Linked DNA regions of Homo sapiens. The protein of the gene in region 2 interacts with the protein of the main gene of each other region in a pairwise test. Each region holds a gene or a part of one and is shown on either strand. Other genes may lie near its edges. The genes, in order: KLKB1, PSMD9 and CCDC136.

Region 1 (7,444 bases), on a different chromosome or scaffold from region 2:
CCTATCCTCAATACCTCCCTCCACAACCCATTATTCTGTTCTGGATCTCAAACATGCTTTCTTTACTATTCCTTTGCACCCTTCATCCCAGCCTCTCTTCGCTTTCACTTGGACTGACCCTGACACCCGTCAGCCTCAGCAACTTACTTGGGCTGTACTGCCACAAGGCTTCGAGGACAGCCCCCATTACTTCAGTCAAGCCCAAATTTCTTCCTCATCCATTACCTATCTCGGCATAATTCTTCATGAAAACACATGTGCTCTCCCTGCTGATTGTGTCTGGCTCATCTCCCAAACCCCAACCCCTTCTACAAAACAACTCCTTTTCTTCCTAGGTATGGTTAAGTACTTCCGCCTTTGGATACTAAGTTTTACCATCCTGACTAAACCATTATATAAACTCACAAAAGCAAAGCTAGCTGACCCCAAAGATCCTAAATCCTTTAGCCACTCCTCTTGCCATTCCTTAAAAACAGCCCTAGAAACTGCTCCCACACTAGCTCTCCCTAACTCATCCCAACCCTTTTCATTACACACAGCCGAAGTGCAGGGCTGCGCAGTCAAAATTCTTACACAAGAGCCAGGACCACGCCCTGTAGCCTTTCTGTTCAAACAACTTGACCTTACTGTTTTAGGCTGGCCCCCACCCCCATGACTGTATCTCTCTGATCCACCTGACATCCACTCCATTTCCCCATATTTCCTTCTTTCCTGTTCCTTACCCTGATCACACTTGGTTTATTGATGGCAGTTCCACCAGGCCTAATCACCACTCACCAGCAAAGGCAGGCTATGCTGTAGTATCTTCCACATCTATCACTGAGGCTACTGCTCTGCCCCGCTCCACTACCTCTCAGCAAGCTGAACTCATTGCCTTAACTCAGGCCCTCACTCTTGCAAAGGGACTACGTGTCAATATTTATACTGACTCTAAATATGCCTTCCATATTCTGCACCACCATGCGGTTATATGGGCTGAAGGAGGTTTCCTCACTACACAAGGGTTCTCCATCTTAATGCCTCTTTAATAAAAACTCCTCTCAAGGCCACTTTACTTCCAAAGGAAGCTGAAGCCATTCACTGCAAGGGCCACCAAAAGGCATCAGATCCCACTGCTCAGGACAATGCCTATGCTGATAAGGTAGCTAAAAAAGCAGCGAGCATTCCAACTTCTATCCCTCACAGCCAGTTTTTTTCTTCCTCATCTGTCACTCCCATCTACTCCCCCATTGAAACTTCCACCTATCAATCTCTTCCCACACAAGGCAAATAATTCTTGGACCAAGGAAAATATCTCCTCCAGCCTCACAGGCCCATTCTATTCTGTCATCATTTCATAAACTCTTCCATGTAAGTTACAAGCCACTAACCCACCTCTTAAAACCTCACTTTTCCTTTCCGTCGTAAAAATCTATCCTCAAAAAATAACTGCTCAGTGTTCCATCTGCTACTCCACTCCTCCTCAGGGATTGCTCAGGCCCCCTCCCTTCCCTACACATCAAGCTCGGGGATTTGCCCCCGCCCAGGACTGGCAGATTGACTTTACTCACATACCCGGAGTCAGGAAACTAAAATACCTCTTGGTCTGGGTAGACACTTTCACTGGATGGGTAGAGGCCTTTCCCACAGGGTCTGAGAAGGCCACCGTGGTCATTTCTTCCCTTCTGTCAGACATAATTCCTCAGTTTGGCCTTTCCATCTCTATACAATCCGATAACAGACCGGCCTTTATTAGTCAAATCACCCAAGCAGTTTCTCAGGCTCTTGGTATTCAGTAAAACCTTCATACCCCTCACCATCCTCAATCTTCAGGAAAGGTAGAACAGACTAATGGTCTTTTAAAAACACACCTCACCAAGCTCAGCCTCCAACTTAAAAAGGAGGACTCTGTCAAGGATAGAGCCCAAAAACTCACCAACCAAGCAAGTAATTACACTGAACCCCCTTAGGCACTCTCTAATTAGATGTCCTGGGTCCTCCCAATTCTTAGTCCTTTAACACCTGTTTTTCTCCTTCTCTTATTCAGACCTTGTGTCTTCCATTTAGTTTCTCATTTCACACAAAACCATATCCAGGCCATCACCAATCATTCTATATGACAAATGCTGCTTCTAACAACCCCACAATATCACCCCTTACCATAAAATATTCCTTCAGCTTCATCTCTCCCACTGTAGGTTCCCACGCCGCCCCTAATCCCGCTCGAAGCAGCCCTGAGAAACATCGCCCATTATCTCTCCATACCACCCCCAAAAACTTTCGCCACCCCAACACTTTACCACTATTTCGTTTTCTTTTTCTTATTAATATAAGAAGACAGGAATGTCAGGCCTCTGGGCCCAGGCCTGCACGTATACATCTAGATGACCTGAAGTAACTGAAGAAAGACAAAAGAAGTGAAAATGGCCGGTTCCTGCCTTAACTGATGACGTTACCTTGTGAAATTCCTTCTCCTGGCTCAGAAGCTCCCCCACTGAGCACCTTGTGACCCCCCACCGCTGCCCGCCAGAGAACAACCCCCTTTGACTGTAATTTTCCACTACCTACCCAAATCCTATAAAACGTCCCCACCCCATCTCCCTTCACTGACTCTCTTTTCGGACTCAGCCTGCCTGCACCCAGGTGATTAAAAAGCTTTCTTGCTCACACAAAGCCTGTTTAGTGGTCTCTTCACACGGACGCACATGACATTAAATATATGCAATACTTCAGCCCAATGTCCTAACCTGTTAAAATTGTTTTTACTTTGCTTTTCCTATCTAATATGTTGGGCACTATTTATAGATATTTTGGCCAAGCAACCAGTTGATTTCTAGGACATTCTCTATTTCAAGTATGCCATCTGGTTAGCCTCCGAACAGAAACCATGATGTTGCTTCCCCTAATTGCAATTTTATCAACCAGCTTCGTTTATCAGACTTTCTTCCCCAGAGGTGATAAAAATAAAAAAACCTTTTTTTTCCAATTTATGTTTTCCTCCTTTTGGCTTGAAAATATGTGTACCATCTCAATTGATAAATTAATAAGTCACATGGTAGGAATTTTCCATGTCAGAGTTGCAAATGGTTTTGTTAAATTAACTGAGGAAACGTGGTTAGCCTGACATCTCTCAAGATCTATGCAGGAAGATGGACCACAAGAGAAGGAAATCTGTAAATATAATGAATTCATATGTGTTGAGAGGCAGGAGGCTTTAAAACACCATTAAATCCATTAAAAAAACAAAAGGTGGAGTGAGCACTGTGAAATGTGTGTGACCCAAGGGTCGAGTTCTGGTTCAGCTCATCAGCTGTGTTGCCCCCGGAGCACCTTCACTTCTACCCTCCTTCCAGGAGCCTTAGGGGTTTTGTTTGTAAAATTAGGAAAATCCTTGGTGAAACCAAGGACAAATCTGTAGTGATAACTACAGATCATCCCTAACTTATGAATCTCATTTGGGCAGTTAGGCCAGGAGACAGCCCTACTCTAGGTTTAGGAGGCATGTGGCTACTGGGTGTTCCCTGAGGAACGGGGACCACGTACTCAGTGAAAAGCCACGCCCTTAGCAGCTCAAAACACCACCTGAAACAGCCATATTTTTATCAGTCTGTAAAGGCCATTTGATCCGATTAAATCACATGTGAACTCACTGCAATTTAACAAGAAAGCAAGTACACAGATGAGCCATCCAGGGTGCTCTCCCAGGTGTGGACAGCAGCTGTGACAGCCCAGAGCCACAGCACGAGCTTGCCTGTTCCCTGGGTAAGTGCAGCAAATCCTTCCAGCAACAGGGCTGGGTACAGAATGGAGCATGTTTGCATCGAGTCCTGCCTCCTGGCAGCCTTCAAAAACTCTCCCAGAAAAAAATAATATGAACGTTAAAATTAAATCACCAGTACACGTGAACCTGGCACACACCATGGAGAAGGTGTGCTGTCGCAAAGAGGAGACAGGAAAATAGCCACCTTGTAACCAACCTTCCCAATCTTCCACAGGGAAATCCTAGCCCAGCACCCAATACAGGGCCAGGCACAGAGCCAGCACCCAGTACTGCGGAAAACTGGCCGTAAGGGATTTGCTTTTAGTAACATCTTGTCATTAACATCCTGACATGCTAAATGAGGTGGAATGTCATGGCAATTTTCTGGATAATTCCATTGAAATTACCTTTATGTGTGAAACGACAGAGTTTTATTTCCCTACCCCTGGTAGAGTCATTTCACTAGATAGGGACACAACCAAGGAATGACCTTACAGTTTTGCTACAACATCACTGTACCTATAACTATAACAATATCACTGTCCTATAACTATTACAACGTCACTGTACCTATAACTGTAACAATATCACTGTCCTATAACTATATCACTGTCCTATAACTATAACAATATCACTGTACCTATATCACTGTAACTACATCACTGTCCTATAACTATAACAATATCACTGTCCTATAACTATAACAATATCACTGTACCTTTAACTATAACTATACCACGGTAACTATAAGAATATCACTGTCCTATAACTATAACAGTATCACTGTCCTATATCACTGTACCTATAACTCTAACAGTATCACTGTACTAGTTTCCTATAACTATAACAATATCACTGTCCTACAACTATAACAGTATCACTGTACTAGTTTCCTATAACTATAACAATATCACTGTCCTATATCACTGTACCTATAACTCTAACAGTATCACTGTACTAGTTTCCTATAACTATAACAATATCACTGTACCTATAACTATAACAGTATCACCGTACTAGTTTCCTATAACTATAACAATATCACTGTCCTATATCACTGTCCTATAACTATAACAGTATCACTGTACTAGTTTCCTATAACTATAACAATATCACTGTCCTATATCACTGTACCTATAACTCTAACAGTATCACTGTACTAGTTTCCTATAACTATAACAATATCACTGTCCTATAACTATAACAGTATCACTGTACTAGTTTCCTATAACTATAACAGTATCACTGTCCTATATCACTGTACCTATAACTCTAACAGTATCACTGTACTAGTTTCCTATAACTATAACAGTATCACTGTCCTATGTCACTGTACCTATAACTCTAACAGTATCACTGTACTAGTTTCCTATAACAGTATCACTGTCCTATATCACTGTACCTATAACAGTATCACTGTACTAGTTTCCTATAACTATAACAATATCACTGTACCTATAACTCTAACAGTATCACTGTACTAGTTTCCTATAACTATAACAATATCACTGTCCTATATCACTGTACCTATAACTCTAACAGTATCACTGTACTAGTTTCCTATAACTATAACAATATCACTGTCCTATATCACTGTCCTATAACTATAACAGTATCACTGTACTAGTTTTCTATAACTATAACAGTATCACTGTCCTATATCACTCTACCTATAACTCTAACAGTATCACTGTACTAGTTTCCTATAACTATAACAGTATCACTGTCCTATGTCACTGTACCTATAACTCTAACAGTATCACTGTACTAGTTTCCTATAACAGTATCACTGTCCTATATCACTGTACCTGTAACAGTATCACTGTACTAGTTTCCTATAACTATAACAATATCACTGTACCTATAACTCTAACAGTATCACTGTACTAGTTTCCTATAACTATAACAATATCACTGTCCTATATCACTGTCCTATAACTCTAACAGTATCACTGTACTAGTTTCCTATAACTATAACAGTATCACTGTCCTATATCACTGTCCTATAACTCTAACAGTATCACTGTACTAGTTTCCTATAACTGCTGCTCTAGGGGCATAACCACAAACTTAGTGGTTAAAAACAACACAAATTAATTATCTTACTGTTCTAGAGATTGGGTCTTACTGGGCTAAAATCAAGACATCAGCAGGGCTTCTTCCTCCAGGACGCTCCACAGGGAAACTCTTTCCTCGCCCTTTTCAACTTCTAGAGGCCGCCTGCATTCCTTGGCTCACGGACCTTCATCTTCAAAGCCAGCAGTGTAATACCTTCAAACCTCTCTCTCTGGCTCTGAGCCTTCCGCCTCTCTCTTTTTCTTATGAGCCTTGTGAGCACTCAACCCTGTGAGTACATTGGGCCCATTCAGAAAATCCAGAGTAAACTCCCCATCTCGAAGCCCGTAACTGCATGCCATTGACAGAAACGCTTTTGCCAGCTATGGGAACACACGCACAGGTCCCAGGGCTCAGCACAGGGACGTCTCTGGGGGCTCCTATTCCACCTACCACAATCACAAAGTGAAGTAGTCCTACAATTACCAATTTCTGAAAGGGCACAGGGCTTCAGTGAGAATCCAGATTCCACGTTACTCAGCACCTTTATAGCGGTAGGTGTTCCTCCGGGACTGTACTTTAATAGGCAATTGTTCCTGAATGGGAAGAAAAGAGGTTACTTTGCTTTCTGCACTTTGAGGGGCAGGGAGCAGTGCAGGTAACAGTTAGTATTAAAATGCACAGTGGAAAAACAATGACCCTGATAATGAGTGGGTTAGGGGTCTGCATTATTAACCTAATGGACATCCTTCCCCTCGCAAAGGGGTAAAGGAAAAGTTAGGGTGAGAATGAGGCAGGAGACTCCGTGACACTAAACCCTCATTCTATAAGCAAGGCCTATGTGTGGGGCAAACGGAACTTCAGGAAAAATGACACCAAAATTCGCTTCAGGAAAGCGAAAAATGACACAGACTTCAGAAAATGACTTCAGAAAAAATGACACCAAAATTTTGCTTCAGGAAAAAATGACACCAAAATTGAGTAGAGCATGGAGCGATAGACAGTAGAGACTGGGAAGGTGACAGAGAGGTGGGAAGGGGGCGGGCGTTGAAAAATAGCTTAGTGGGTACAATGTACATGACTCCAGTGATGGATATACCAAAAGCCCAGACTTTACCACTGTAAAATACATCAAAGTAACAAAATTACACTTGTACCCCATACATCTATGCAAATAAAAATAAGATTTAAAAATAAGGAAAAAAATCACAAGTTAATATCAAATTGTGATTAGCTCTATGAATGAAATAAACAGAGCTGAGTGTGACTTAAAAGAGAATGCTCAGAAATGGGCTTTTGGAGGGGACGGTATTTGAGGAAAGACCTGCAAGAATCAGCTTTGGAGAAGTAGGGGAAGAGGATGTCAGGCTTTGAAGATGCGGTACAATTACATGCCAGGGGAAAAGAGTAGAGAAACAAATGAAATTAAATGAATTATTTAATTAAAAAATGAAGGGCGAGGCGCAGTGGCTCATGCCTGTAATCCCAGCGCTTTGGGAGGCTGAGGTGGGTGGATCACAAGATCAGGAGTTCGAGACCAGCCTGACCAACATAGTAAAACCCCGACTCTACTAAAAATACAAAAATTAGCCAGGCATGGTGGCGGACGCCTGTAATCCCAGCTACTCGGGAGGCTGAGGCAGGAGAATC
Region 2 (7,444 bases):
ATCGCTTGAGGTCAGGAGTCCGAGACCAGCCTGGCCAACATGGTGAAACCCCGTCTCAACGAAAAATACAAAAATTAGCCAGGTGTGGTGGTACACATCTATAATCCCAGCTACCCGGGAGGCTGATGCAAGAGAATCACTTGAACCTGGGAGGCGGAGGTTGCAGTGAACCAAGACTGCACCACGACACTCCAGCCTGGGTGACAGAGATTCCATCTCAAAAAAAAAAAAAAAAAAAAAAAGAAGTGGACAGCTAAAACTATAAATCTCGTATAATAAAGCATAGGAGTAAATCTTCATGACCTTGGATTAGGCAAAGCCTTTTTAGATATGGCACCAAAAACACAAGCTACAAAAGAAAAAATGATAAGTTGGACTTCAACTTTAAAACTGTGTTTCAAAGGGCATAGTAAAATGAAAAGATAAGCTCCAGAATGGGAGAAAATATTTGCATATCATTTCTCTGATAAGAGGATAGTATCTAGACTATAATAAGAGCTCTTACAACTCAATAATAAAAAGACAGCCAATTAGAAGACAGGGAAAGGATCTGAATAAACATTTCTCCAAAGAAAATATGGTCAATACAAATGGTCAATGGCCAGGCGTGGTGGCTCATGCCTGTAATCCCAGGACTTTGGGAGTCTGAGGCAGGAGGATCACTTGAGGCCAGGGGTTTGAGACTAGCCTGGGCAACACAGTAAGAGCCTATCTTTACAAAAAATTCAAAATTAAAGGCCGGGCATGGTGGCTCATGCCTGTAATCCCAGCACTTTGGGAGGCCGAGGCTGGCAGATCACGAGGTCAGGAGATCGAGACCATCCTGGTTAACACGGTGAAACCCCGTCTCTACTAAAAATACAAAAAAATTAGCCGGGTGTGGTGGCAGACGCCTGTAGTCCCAGCTACTCGGGAGGCTGAGGCAGGAGAAGGGCCTGAACCCAGGAGGCGGAGCTTGCAGTGAGCCAAGATCTCGCCACTGTACTCTAGCCTGGGCAACAGAGCGAGACTCTGTCTTTAAAAAAAAAAAATTAAAAATTAAAAATTAGCCAGGTGTGATGACATGTGCCTGTGGTCCCAGCTACTTAGGAGGCTGAGACAGATCGCTTGAACCCAGGAGTTTAAGGCGGCAGTGAGCTATGAACACACCACTGCACCCGATCCTGGGCAACAGAAGATCTTGTCTCAAACCAATACAAACACAAAAGCCATTACCTTTTACACTTTACATGGGTCAGTTATATGGTATCTGAATTATATCTCAATAAAACTGTTATAAAAACAGAGGGTACTAGAGATAGCAAGTAACTGGGGTGTTGCAGAGACCAGCACCAAATGGACACTTTTGCCTTGACAATTGCAGGATTGTAGAGAATTGGGAGAGGAATATGTATTTTTGATTCAGGGTTATTTAATGCCGTGTGTGTGAGCTGCTAGTGTTATGGATCCCATCCTTTGAGAAGCATTATCCAATGTGATATTGATTCTCAAAGGCTGGTCAACCCTTAACCACTGTGGGAAGGCAGGAGCAGATACAGGTTTTTAGCCCCTGGCGCATTTCTGCAGTGTCACGGCGAGTCCTGTGTTAGGGGAGTGTGGAGAACTATCTCCCTGCGCAGTGGACAGTAGGTTTGGGTGTAACCCGGAGGCTTCCAGAGAGAAAGGGAGCAAAATGAATGGAATCCCTCTTCTCAGTGCCTGTGTACACTGGCAGCTTGTCCCTGGACTGACTAATCCTTACAGCCACTATTTATGACTTCTGCGCGTAGTCGTTTTCTGAGGCCACCTTAACACCACAGAGTTGGTGACTTAAAACAGGAATTTACTTTGTCCCAGCTCTGGAGGCCAGAAGTCTGAAATCAAGGTGTCAGCAGGGTTGGCTCCTTCTGCAGGCTCTGAGAGAGAAGCTCCCAAGCCTTTCTCCTGGCCTCTGGTGACTGCTGGCGGTCCTTGGCCTACAGCTGTGTCACTTGAACCTCTGCCTGCATCTTCATGTGGCCTTCCTCCTGTGTCTGTCCCACACCTACCTCTGCCTTTCTTTTATGAGGACACCAGCCACCAGATGAGCTTATCTCGAGATCCTTAACATAATTACATCTACAAAGACTCTTTTTCAAATAAAGTCATATTTACAGGTTCTGGGGGTTAGCTCGTGGTTATCTGTTTTTGGGGGCCGCTCTTCAACCCACTATGCTGTGTATGCGCGTGGCATGTGCTAAGTACTCTGCAGGTCAGCTCGTTAGTTCTTGCAGCAGGTAGGGAGGGAGGCGAGTGCTCCTATTCCCATTTTATAATTGAGGAAGCTGAGGCTTAGAGAGGAGAAGGTCTCAGCTAAGGATGCCCAGCTTGTACATGGCAGAGTTGAGATTCAAATTAAAGTCTAACCAATTGCAAAGCCCCTCCCCTGAACCATGTGACTGGTTTCACTGCTTTTGTGTACTCTCCTCTGACTCATGTTAAAAAAAAAAAAAGTGTTGTTTTGAATAAAGAATACATTCCCATAGGCAAAATTCAAAACCTACAGAGGGGTATAAAATGGACTGTCTCTCTCCCTGCCCTGTCACCTAGCCACCCAGTTCTTCTCCCCGGAGGCAGCTGGTGCTATCAGTTTCCTTCTTCAGATCTTTTTATTTTCAGAAGAATCAAAGCCCTGCCACAGCTGGGTGCTGTCTGGGCTTTTCACTCCCCTCTAGCTTCCAGGGCCAGCAGCCAGGTGTCAGCCACCTGTGGGAAGGAGGGTGTGAAGGAGTGGAGGAAGAGGCTGGCCTTGGGGATGATGCTCAAAGGAGTCTTTGGTTTTATCGGCACTGTTTTAACTTCAAAAAAGAATGGATTCATGCATTACTTGCGTCGTTAAAAATAAAAAATGAAAAACACAGTGCCCACCCCAGGGTAGTTGTGAGGGCATGAGTAGAGCCCCTGGTGTAAGTGATCAGTATGTGGCAGTTTTCATTACTGTCACCTTTATTATGACTTCAGAGGAGAAGGGTCTGGGGAAAGACATCCTGGGGACATTACACCCATGAGCACCTTTTAACCACGTTTCTTTCCTCCAGCAAAAAGGCATTGGGATGAACGAGCCGCTGGTGGACTGTGAGGGCTACCCCCGGTCAGACGTGGACCTGTACCAAGTCCGCACCGCCAGGCACAACATCATATGTGAGTGGCCCTCTTAGAAGACTTTCCCCACCTTGTGGTGGGAAGGTGTTAAAGGCATACAAATAAAACCAACTATCTGTATTATCTACTGCCTTCTCTTCTGCCTTGATGGGATTGTCTTGTCCCCATCCAAGGACTGAGAACCAAGGGAATGGGCTAGACTCTAAGGTTCTATATTTCTGGTTTCATTTTCTCTCTCTCTCTCTCTCTCTTTTTTTTTTGAGTCAGGGTCTTGCTCTGTCTTCCAGGCTGGAGTGCAGTGGTGCTAACATGACTCACTGCAGTCTCAACCCCCCAGGCTCCAAGTGCTCCTTCTGCCTCAGCCTCCCAAGTAGCTGGGACTATAGGCATGTGTCGCTGTGCCTGGCTAATTTTTTTTAGTAGAGACGAGTCTCACTAAGTGGCCCAGGTGAGTCTTGAACTCCTGGACTCAAGTGGTCCTCCTGCCTTGGCCTTCCAAGGTGCTGATTGTTTTTAATTAAAGAGCTAGCAGAGAGTACAGATTGGATAGTATATTTGTTTTCTGTTTCTGCCATAACAAATGACGTGATTTGTTTTTAATTAAAGAGCTAGCAGAGAGTACAGATTGGATAGTATATTTGTTTCTGTTTCTGCCATAACAAATGACCACAGACTTAGTAGCTGGAGATAAGAAGTCCAGATGGGTCTCACTGGACTAAAATCAAGGTGTTGGCAGGGCTGGCTCCTTCTGGAGGATCTAGGGGAGAACCTGTTCCTGGTCTTTTCTGGTTTCCAAAGGCTGCCCACCGTCCTTGGCTCATGGCTTCGTCCATCTACACAGCCAGCAGTCGCATTTCCCTCCCTCTGATTCTGTCATAACATCTCTTTCTCTCACTCTCCTGCCTCCCTCTTTCACCTATAAAGACCTCTGTGATGACACCAGGCCCACCTGGATAATCCAGGATCATGTCCGAATCTTAAGGTCCTTAATCACATCTGCAGAGCCTCTTTTGCCATGTAAGGTGGCATATTCCCAGCTTCTAGGGGCTAGGATGTGGATGTGTTGGGGGCCATTATCCACTCAGCCATAGGTAGGCAACCGTCTCCACCACAGAGTCCTATTAGCATTTATCCTCCACATTTTTCACTTACTAACTCCTCTTTAATCTGTTTGAATCTTGATTCCATCTGCATCACATCTTATTTATTTATTTATTTTTTGAGACGGAGTCTCGCTCTGTCACCCAGGTTGGAGTGCAGTGGCACGATCTTGGCTCACTGCAACTTCCACCTCCCGAGTGACAGAGCAAGAGACCGTCTCAAAAAAAAAAAAAAAATCTGTTTGAGCAATTCCTTATTGGTCTTTTTTTGAAAAATCTGTTCTCGGCCGGGTGCGGTGGCTCATGCCTGTAATCCCAGCACTTTGGGAAGCCAAGGCGGGCAGATCACCTGAGGTCAGGAGTTTGAGTCTAGCCTGACCAACATGGCAAAATCCTGTCTGTACTAAAAATAGAAAAATTAACTGGATGTGGTGGCACATGCCTGTAATTCCAGCTACTTGGGAGGCTGAGACAGGAGAATCACTTGAACCCAGGAGGCAGAGGTTGCAAAGAGCCGAGATTACACCACTGCACTCCACCCTGGGCGACAGAGCAAACAAAACTCTGTCTCAAAAAAAAGAAAGAAAATCTATTCTCAAAACAGCCCTTTTTAAAGAACAGTTATAGATTTACATAAAAATTGGAAAATAATGGCTGGGTGCGGTGGCTCACGCCTGTAATCCCAGCACACTGGGAGGCCGAGGTGGGCAGATCACCTGAGGTCGGGAGTTCGAGACCAGCCTGACCAACATGGAGAAACCCTGTCTCTACTAAAAATACAAAATTAGCTGGGCATGGTGGCACGAACCTGTAATCCCAGCTACTCAGGAGGTTGAGGCAGGAGAATCACTTGAACCCAGGAGGCGGAGGTTGCCGTGAGCCGAGATTGTGCCATTGCACTCCAGCCTGGGCAACAAGAGTGAAACTCTGTCTCAAAAAAAAAAAAAAAAAGAAAAGAAAAAAAAATTGGAAAATAATGCATAGGTCCTTTGGCTTCTGTATGTAATCTCCCGTGTTGTTAACAGCATATATACACATACATGTGTATATATCTACACATACATGTAAATATATACACACATACATGTGTATGTAAAATATACACATGCGTGTATATATGCAAAATACACATATGAGTGAATGACTCAGGCTGGGTGTAACCAAGATTTCACTTTTCTCTGAAATCCTCTAGAAGGAAAAATGCTGCATAAGCTGGGCACAGAGGCTCATGCCTGTAATCCCAGCACTTTGGGAGGCTGAGGCCTCCCAAATATATACACATGTGTATACACACAGGTTCAAGTGATTCTCCAGCCTTAGCTTCCCAAGTAGCTGGGATTACAGGTGCCCACCATCACACCGGACTAATTTTTTTTTTTTTTTTGAGATGGAATCTTGCTTAGCCACCTAGGCTGGAGTGCAGTGGCATGATCTCGGCTCACTCACTGCACTCACCATCTCCCGGGTTCAAGTGATTCTCCCATCTCAGCCTCCCAAGTAGCTGAGATTACAGGCATCCGCCATCGTGCCCGGCTAATTTTTATATTTTAGTAGAGACAGGGTTTCACCATGTTGGCCAGGCTGGTCTTGAACTCCTGACCTCAGGTGATCCGCCCGCCTCGGCCTCGACAGGCGTGAGCCACCATGCCTGGCCTAATTTTTTAGTAGTATTTTTTTAGTAGAGACGGGATTTCACCATGTTGGCCAGGCTGGTCTCCAACTCCTGACCTCAGGTGATCCGCCCGCCTCGGCCTCGACAGGCGTGAGCCACCATGCCTGGCCTAATTTTTTAGTAGTATTTTTTTAGTAGAGACGGGATTTCACCATGTTGGCCAGGCTGGTCTCGAACTCCTGACCTCAGGTGATCTGCCCGCCTCGGCCTCGCAAAGTGCTGGGATTACAGGCATGAGCCACCGCGCCCAGCTAACAGCTTATGTTAATATGGTACGTTTGTTATAATTGCAAATTTGTTTTTTGAAATACACTGCAGAAACATTTTGTACTGAAAAAAACCCTTTCAACATTTTGATTAGAATTGTAATATGTTGTAAATAGTCGTTCGTTCCATTCCCCAACAGCTGTGTATTGAGCACTTCCCTGTGCCAGGCATTGCAGAGTCTAGGGATGCTGTGGACCTCACTGGGGGAGGGCTTTTCTAGTGAAAGTGACCATGTATTATGTAAGTCTGCCTCCCAAGTGCATGTCTCCACTTGTTCAGATCTGGGTTCTTTTCCCACATCTGCTCCTGTGGGTTGAGAACTTGAATCCCTTCATGACTGAGGGTCTTGCCTTTGCTCCAAAGTGACAGTGGCAGAGGAGGCAGGTCAGGTAGTACCGCAATCCCACTGACAGGCACAAGGTATCAAAATACCAGCTGCTGTGCTGGCGTGGCCTGCAGATTGCCATGGTGGTTCACAACATTTTGAATTAGCTATCTGTACTGAAAAATCAGAGAATTTCACTTCAAAGATCCCAATTTTCAGCTTTTCTGGAAAAATCAAAGATTTTGTAGCATTGGGTCTTCCTCCCAAACCCAGCCAATTGGCAAGAGCCCTGTAGCAGGGGTGCCCTTTGGCCACCTCCCTGTGGACTCCCTCTCCTGGACTGAATGTCTCCAGGATTACTAGGCTTATGCAGCACTTTTTTTTTTTTTTTTTGAGACGAATTCTTGCTTTGTCGCCAGGCTGGAGGGCAGTGGTGCGATCTCGGCTCACTGCAACCTCCACCTCCTGGGTTCAAGTAATTCTCCTGCTTCAGCCTCCCAAGTAGCTGGGATTACAGGCACCCGCCACCACGCCCAGCTAATTTTTGTTTTTGTTTTGTTTTGTTTTGTTTTTGAGACGGAGTCTTGCTCTGTTGCCCAGGCTAGAGTGCAGTGGCGCGATCTCGGCTCACTGCAATCTCCGCCTCCCTGGTTCACGCCAATCTCCTGCCTCAGCCTCCCGAGTAGCTGGGACTACAGGCGCCTGCCATCATGCCCGGCTAATTTTTGTATTTTTAGTAGAGACGGGGTTTCACCGTGTTAGCCAGGATGGTCTCCATCTCCTGACCTCGTGATCCGGCCACCTTGACTTCCCAAAGTTCTGGGATTACAGGCCTGAGCCACCACGCTCGGCCTAATTTTTGTATTTTTTAGTAGAGACGGGGTTTCACCATGTTGGCAAGGTGGTCGCGATCTCTTGACCTCGTGATCTGCCTGCCTCGGCCTCCCACAGTGCTGGGAT
Region 3 (7,444 bases), on a different chromosome or scaffold from region 2:
ACTTCCACCATTCCTTTCTGGGGGCAGTTTGATGGGGAATGCTATCGATGCCCCTTTCTCATTTCCCCCTTCCTCTTCTCCGGCCCTTTCCTTTATACACCATATTCCCACCCTGTTGGGAACTCTTAGCTCCTGTTATTCTCATTAACCCCAGTTGTTTTTTAATGCAACTACACTCCTTACAAATAAGGACTTAATTTCACCCTAATTTTTCCCATTTTTGCTTTCCTAATTCTCTCTTTAAATCTTTAGAAAGTATGCGCTATTGGTAAATTTGGGTTGAGAAGACTAAATCATCCCATTTCCAAAAACCCAGATCTTCTAATATCAGACAGATCTCAATGCTGTTTTACGGCTAGAGAAAAAGCAGGTGCTGTCTGCCAGCATGCTTCTCCTTTCCCATCATTTTTCCCATTAGGGGAAGAGGTGACGAGCAAGTCACAGATCACCTGGGCTCCTAAATTGAGTAGCAGTGGAAAAAGGAGGAAACGTGAGCCTGGATATAGAAAGGCAAAGAGACTGCTGAGGTGGCCCAAATAACCTTCCCAGTCCTCCGTCTCCTGAAGGCCTTTCCCCAGGGACAGGAACTACTGAGTTTTCTGGCAGAATGTGACCAACTCCACCATCGTTAGAGACTCTTGGGCCTCTTCTCCAACATGCTTCAACACCTTTCCATTTCCCATCAGTAATCAGGAGCTGAAAGTGCTCAACAGGATAAATGATAACGGCTTGCATTTTATACACTATGGAAAAGAAAAAAAATGAATAAGGCCTTATTTATCACTACCAGGATTTACTGCTAAAAGGAAGTGAGTTAAGAGTAGTATTCTCTTCCATTTAAAGAGGGCACAATTCAACCTTCCACAATTTAATTACTGGCAGGGCATGGCGGCTCATGCCTGTAATCCCAGCACCTTGGGAGGCCGAGGCAGGTGGATCACCTGAGGTCAGGAGTTCGAGACCAGCCTGACCAACATGGCGAAACCCGGTCTCAACTAAAAATACAAAAATTAGCCAGGCACAATGGCATGTGCCTGTAGTCCCAGCTACTTGGGAGGCTGAGATAGGAGAATTGCTTGAACCCAGGAGGCGGAGGCTGCAGTGAGCTGAGATCGTGTCACTGCACACTCCAGCCTGGGCGACAGAGTGAGACTCCATTTCATAAAAAAAGAATTTAACTACTTCAAAGTCACAGAATAAATCCTAGAAGAGCCTAGGTCCTTCTCTTGCCCAATCAGCACTCTGGGCACAAGACCGTACCCCTTTATAAGACCATTTGCAATCTGACCCAGAAAACTGGCCCCTTTCTCTAGTTCCAACAATAATATTTGTGTAATGGGCCCATGTATATGTTCCCCTCCAAGAATGACTAGATATCACTACAGTTCTAATACCATTGTATAAATGTCTACATACATGGAATCATGTGTAAAACTTTCAGGGGTTCAGACTGGGATCCAAAGGTATTGATCCTACTAAGCTGTGGCTCTGGCTCAAAGTCAAGGTCAGGGCAAACAATTTTGAAGTTAGCAGCATGTGGCCCTGCCTCTGCTTCCTGCCTAGGAAGGCCATCAAGCCCTTGGGTTGGGTGCCTTCACTTTTTGCCTCTGTACCTCTTCTCTCTGGAGCAAGTGCCCAGGAGCTGTCACCTCTCTGAACGACAATTACCTTATTAGCACACTTTCCTTTGTCCTCCGGAATGGGGTGGGAGGCCTTGAGCTCTTTCAGCTCCAGCTGGCAGAGCAGGAGGTCCTGCTCCAGCTGGTCATACATGTGCTTCTGCCGCTCCAGCTCGTCCTTGCTGGCCTGGTACAGCTGCTTCATCTCCTGAAGCTGAGCGTGCGTCTCTGTGTCCTGGGCAGGGGAGGCAGGCCTGGCCATCATCCCAGGCACTCCTGCTGCTGGACTCTCTCCTCCCAGGCGGGGACTAAGGGGACCCATCTTCCCTTGTCCTTCTCAGCCCCAATTTCATCCCAGCCAGGGATAGATACCCAAGATGGACCCGTCCCTGACAGGCTTGAAACACAGACCTTCCCAGTGCAGCCTTTCCAGTTAAATAAATAAATAAATAAATATAAAAATAATTTAAAAAGAAACACAGACCTTCTGGGGCTTCCTTTTTTGGGAGGTGGGGAGGCAAAGGGACTTCCTTTTTATATGCTGCTTTTCTGATTTAAAATCAAAGGAAGCTGAGAGCCTTGTGACTCCCCGAGGTCACCTTTCTCCTAAGCACCTCTTTGGCCCCCTCACTGCCAGCTCCTCCACACTCCTACCATTCCCTCTCGTCCTCTGTGCTCTCACCCTCACACAAGATGATGCCTGGCTACATCCTCCCTCACCAGGAGCTTCTTTTACCTTCTCATTGCTCTCTTTGAAGGAGGCCACCGTATCCCTGAGGTGCTGCAGCTCTGCCTCATGGCACTGCAGCTCCTCCTGCAGCTGCTGCTGCCGTTCCAGCAGCTTTTCCTTCTCACATGTGACGTTCTGGTGCTGGAGGTGCAGCTTCTGCAGCCGGCACAGTAACTCCTATGGTAGAGGGGGCTTTGGGCAGTGCCTTTGGGCTCCTTAACCCACTCACTCTTCTGTGTGAGTCACTTGAAGACACCAACAGTCTAAGATTTGCTTCTTCCTGCCCTTCACTTCCTAATGTCCTCATATCTAATGTAGTACTCGAGCAGGGCTGGAGTTCTTTACCTGTGGTGCTGCCTATGTGGTTGCTGGAATTATTTTTAACTCACTACTCTTATCCACCTTCCCCAAAACCTCAGAAGGATGCCCTTAGCACCTAAGTTGTCCCCTCACCTCTGGTTGCTGTTACCTTCTCACTCTGGTTTTCTACAAGTGTGGATTTCATGACTTTGAGCTGCCGGAGCTCAGTCTGAAGTTGCAGCTGCATCTTCAAGAGCTCGTTCTGCTCATCCTGGCTAGTATCATATTTTTTCTGCAGGGTACAGAGTCTGGACTTCAGCTCCTCATTCTGTGGTAGGGAGGATGTGAGTAGAACAGTTACTCTCAAGAAACAGCAGGTCTTTCTACGGATCAGTTGGGTTCCTTTTCAGATGCAGACATCTTGAGGAGCTCCCACAGGTCTAGGGTTTGGTTTCTTCTGTGAGATGGACACTCAGTAATGACCACCATTTCTAGAATGCAGTGCTATATGACTTCTACAGTTGGTTTCCAGCAGACTGTGCCCAGTTGCAGGGCAAGAGTCAGCAGAGCACAGCCATACTCACTGTGCCCACCCCGGTTGAAGCAGCCCCTCCATGAGGCCCTTCTGCCCCCACCCCAGATGCCTCCCCGGGCAGTGTTTACCTGGGTGACACTGTGGGAGGTCTGAAACCGAAGCACCTCATTCTGAGCACACTTGAGCTCCCTCTGCAGCCGCCTCTGCTCCTCCTCACTGACCTGGCGATGATGCTGTAGCTCTTCCAACTCACAACACAATTCCTGACACTATGTGGGAAATGGAACAGGGAGGCTTGTTTACTACAGATACCACATATGCTCCAAGAACAAGCTTGGGGAAAGCATGGCGCTCTTTGACTGGAAGATTTACATCAGGCAAGTGAGACCCCAGAGTACTATCTCCCTCCACAGTGGATGCCTATGGAGATGTTTCTACCACAGGCTGGGAGAAGGTGAAAGAAAGACAAGAAATGTGCCTGCCTTCCCCACCCTCTGTGCCCTACCTTGTTCTTCATGCCATGCATCTGCTCTTCAGCATCCCGTAGCTGCTGCCGTAACAACTGCATTTCAGGATCAGGCTCTAAGAAATCCATTTCTGAAGTCTGAGACTCTGCTGACGTCATACTCAGTGTTTGGGACTGCAGCCATCTCTCTGTTGCTCTCTGTGTCCTGCAATTCAGAACCGCAGAGCTATGCTTGAAGGGAGTTCTGCCTGGCATCACCAGCCATGCAGGCTTTGTCCTGATACCTTCATTTTAGGCCAAAGATAGTAAGGGGCCTTCTATTGTGACTCACCGCTCAGATAAACATGCTTAAAAGACTACAGAAAGTCTCCAGCCCCTCAATCTGCAAAGGTGTGTTTGGCTCTGGGAGACCCTTAGAGTGCCAGTCCAGTTAGTTTTGAGGCTAGGCCTAGTCAAGCCCACTCCAATCTGGAAGCATTGTGCCTGCCATTAGACTGAAACAAGTCTATGCAGACAATAAAAGAATCTCTTCTGATCCACTTTAGGGCAGAGCAAACCAGAACCCAGTGCCTAGAGCAGAAGTAAACTTCAGAACTCACTCCCTCTAGTCTTGAGATAATTGGGTCGGATCCCCATGTCTGCTTGTAGGTGGTATCTGTATCCTTTGGAAACCATGGAAAGGACTGGGTCTCCAGGAGCAAAGGAACGCTCACTGCCCTGGCATCTGCCTTCAGGGAAAGCCCAAGGTAAGGCAGAGTCCTGTGGAACCCCATGACCTCTCACTCTCCAGAGACAGCTGTACCTCTCACTCTCCAGATCTGCAAGCTGCCCCGTGAGGCTGCTGTTGCTCTCCTGCAGGGCCCGGTATTCCTCATTCAGGAAATGGTAGCGTTCCCGCAGCTCCTGCAGTTCTTCTGCAGAGGACAGGCAGAGAGAGATGAGACCGGGAGGAAAGGAAAGCACTGATGACCAGCCCCCAGTTTTCCTGTCTTGAAACCTGAGAGCAGAAGGTTAAAGAGCTTCTCTTTTTCTAAAGACAGAAAAAAGGTAGAGGCTTAGAAGACAGGGCCCAGGAAATTCCACAGTGCAGTGAGTCTTTCTCCTCTTCCCAATAGCTGTCCTTCTTCTCATCTGCCCTGAAGATTTACCCTGTGTGCTCATCTTCAAAGCCTCAACCGAAGCAGACTCTTGAACTTTTAGCAATTTTTGAAAGTTTAATTAACTTTCAAATTTTTACTGTATGTAAAAACTTTCAAAAGTTTACTGTATGTAAAATTTCCATTCAACTGTTTATGATTACCTTCCAATTATGCTTTTAGTACAAAAAGCTGAGAGATGTGAACTGTCAGATGTGACTGCCAGTACCTGCCTTTCAGGCATTCTGAGTTTCCTTTTATGTTCTTTATTCCCACACCAAATACATTGGTCTGGATGTGGTAAAGAATTCTTGCCAGGTGTAGTGGCTCAAGCCTGTAATCCCAACACTTTGGGAGGCCGAGGTGGGCAGATCACTTGAGGTCAGGAGTTTGAGACCAGCCTGGCCAATATGGCAAAACCCCTGTCTCTACTAAAAATACAAAAAGTAACCAGGCGTGGCGGTGCATGCCTGTAGTCCCAGCTACTCAGGAGGTTGAAGTAGGAGAATTGCTTAAACCCTGGAGGCAGAGGTTACAGTGAGCCAAGACTGTGCCACTGCACTCCAGCCTGGGTGACAGAGTGAGACTCTGTCTCAAAAAAAAAAAAAAAAAGGAATTCTTTCTAATGGCCTTTTATCTGCTGACAGGCCCATCCTAACCAGACTCACATATCATCCTCAAGCATTAGAAGAGATCCGGTTGAAATACTCCAGCACATGTCTCTAAGCACCAGTCACCTATACCTATACTTTTTCCTTTTTGGTTTTGTTTTGTTTTGAGATAGTCTTACTCTGCCATCCAGACCAGAGTGCAGTGGCACAGTCATGGCTCACTGCATCCTTGACCTCCCTGGACTCAGGTGATCCTCCCACCTCGGCCTCCCAAGTACCTGTGACTACAGGCACACACCACCAAGCCTGGCTAATTTTTGAATTTTTTTGTAAAGATGGGGTTCCGCCACATTGCCCAGGCTGGTTTCAAATTCCTGGGCTCAAGTGATCCACCTGCCTCGGCCTCCCAAAGTGGTGGGAGTACAGGCATGAGTCACCATGCCCACTTTTAAGGCTGTGATGATACAAACACCTGTATCTGTTTTGTTGCTTCATGACTAAGAATTATGTTGGCCGGGTGCAGTGGTTTACACCTGTGATCCCAACATTTTGGAAGGCCAAGGTAGAAGGATCATTAGAGCCCAGGAGTTCGAGACCAGCCTGGGTAACAGAGCAAGACTCTGTGTCCACTAGCAAAAAATTGAAAAAGAATTATGTCTCTTAGAACATTAATTCTACTGATATTTAAAGAACACTAACTTGCTCTAATTAGAACACAAGACCTATCTTACCTGCTGGAAGATTCAACACCCTAAAAGTAACTTCTAATGTTTCCTCTTAATTCTAATCAGAATTCCTTAGAATACTGCAGATTACCATATAAGGGAGGAAGGAAACTAATCTTTAATGAAAACTAACCATGCGCTAAGCATTAGACTTGATAGTTTCAGCCTCAGATTTGGTAAGTGTGCAAGTGATTTCAACATGCTTCACATTTCATTTAATTCCCAAAATAGCTCTGTAAGGTTTTTTTCTTCTTTAAATAAACTTTGAATTTTAGAATAGTTTTAGATTTACAAAAAAGTTGCAAAGGTAGTACGGAGTTTCCTGGGAGGGTTCTCACCCAATTTCCCTAATTGTCAACATCTTACATTACCATGATATACCTGTCATGACTAAGGAATCAAATATTGATACATTACTATTAACTAAACTCCATAGTTTACTTGGATTTCTCTACATTTTCCCTAAGGTCCTTTTCCTGTTTCAGGATCCCATCTAGCTATAAGGTTTTATTAACCAATTTTGATTTCATATCCTGGATATAGAAACAGGCTCAGAGAAAGACCATAACCAGACCTCCTACGTTCATCCTGCTAATTAGTGGAGCTGAGATACTGAACTCAGGTCTGTTTGACTCCAGCCCAAGCCTTCCCACTGTGCCAACCTTCTTCTCCCAGCACCATTTAATCTAAAGGCTCTTCTGAGAGGCTTGATACAGCTGGAAAAACTTGCAGTTCTTTGATTCCTTGTTGATTGCCTCTGCTTGACCTGGCCAAATATAGGACCTCCATTATACTCAGATTATAAATCTAGCCTCAGAATAAAGGCAAACTCTCTGATGTCATGAATCCTAGCAACTAGCTGGGAGACTCACTGTCTGAAAGCAGGGCTCTAGGCTTTTGGGTACCTCATGTATCACTCAGAATAACTTTTCTTCTCTAGCTGTCTTTTGTTCCGATTTGTTGCCCCCCAAAGCTTCTATTTTGAGGAGAGCTAATGGAACCTAAGAATTAGCATCCCTGCACCTGGAAGCAGGGCCAGAGGCCCCCTATAAAGCATTCCAGGCAAAGCACCATGATGCCAGGGCAGCAGGAAGAGTTTCCCAAGGTGACAGGTCCCTCTTTGCCCATCCTAGAGCTGGAAATTTTCCCAGGAAGGGTTTTCCCATAGTCAAATCAACAAAGACCCAATGACTCTCTGAAGAATTCCCAGGGTACCTCTCCATGGTGCTATTTCTTACACCACCATGGACTGGTTATGTAACATCTGGGTAGGTTTTTCCCCTTTACTGTCTTTTTAAAATTTTTATTTAAATTTTTCTTTT

What was found.
Region 1: the proteins of PSMD9 (region 2) and KLKB1 interact in binary tests that used the Homo sapiens proteins (3 or more experiments, as listed by UniProt).
Region 3: the proteins of PSMD9 (region 2) and CCDC136 interact in binary tests that used the Homo sapiens proteins (3 or more experiments, as listed by UniProt).

Annotation. Positions count from the first base shown.
Region 1 is NC_000004.12:186,237,202-186,244,645, reverse strand, and holds part of KLKB1 (plasma kallikrein isoform 1 preproprotein), read right to left. Parts: intron 6,391-7,444; coding exon 6,281-6,390; coding exon of another isoform or gene 6,248-6,280; intron 6,242-6,247; exon of another isoform or gene 5,601-6,241; intron 5,482-5,600; exon of another isoform or gene 4,152-5,481; intron 1-4,151. UniProt on the Homo sapiens protein: Participates in the surface-dependent activation of blood coagulation. Activates, in a reciprocal reaction, coagulation factor XII/F12 after binding to negatively charged surfaces.
Region 2 is NC_000012.12:121,891,683-121,899,126, forward strand, and holds part of PSMD9 (26S proteasome non-ATPase regulatory subunit 9), read left to right. Parts: intron 1-3,056; coding exon 3,057-3,159; intron 3,160-7,444. UniProt on the Homo sapiens protein: Acts as a chaperone during the assembly of the 26S proteasome, specifically of the base subcomplex of the PA700/19S regulatory complex (RC).
Region 3 is NC_000007.14:128,801,770-128,809,213, reverse strand, and holds part of CCDC136 (coiled-coil domain-containing protein 136), read right to left. Parts: intron 4,565-7,444; coding exon 4,453-4,564; intron 3,856-4,452; coding exon 3,690-3,855; intron 3,454-3,689; coding exon 3,313-3,453; intron 2,978-3,312; coding exon 2,819-2,977; intron 2,527-2,818; coding exon 2,356-2,526; intron 1,855-2,355; coding exon 1,669-1,854; intron 679-1,668; exon of another isoform or gene 450-678; intron 1-449. UniProt on the Homo sapiens protein: May play a role in acrosome formation in spermatogenesis and in fertilization.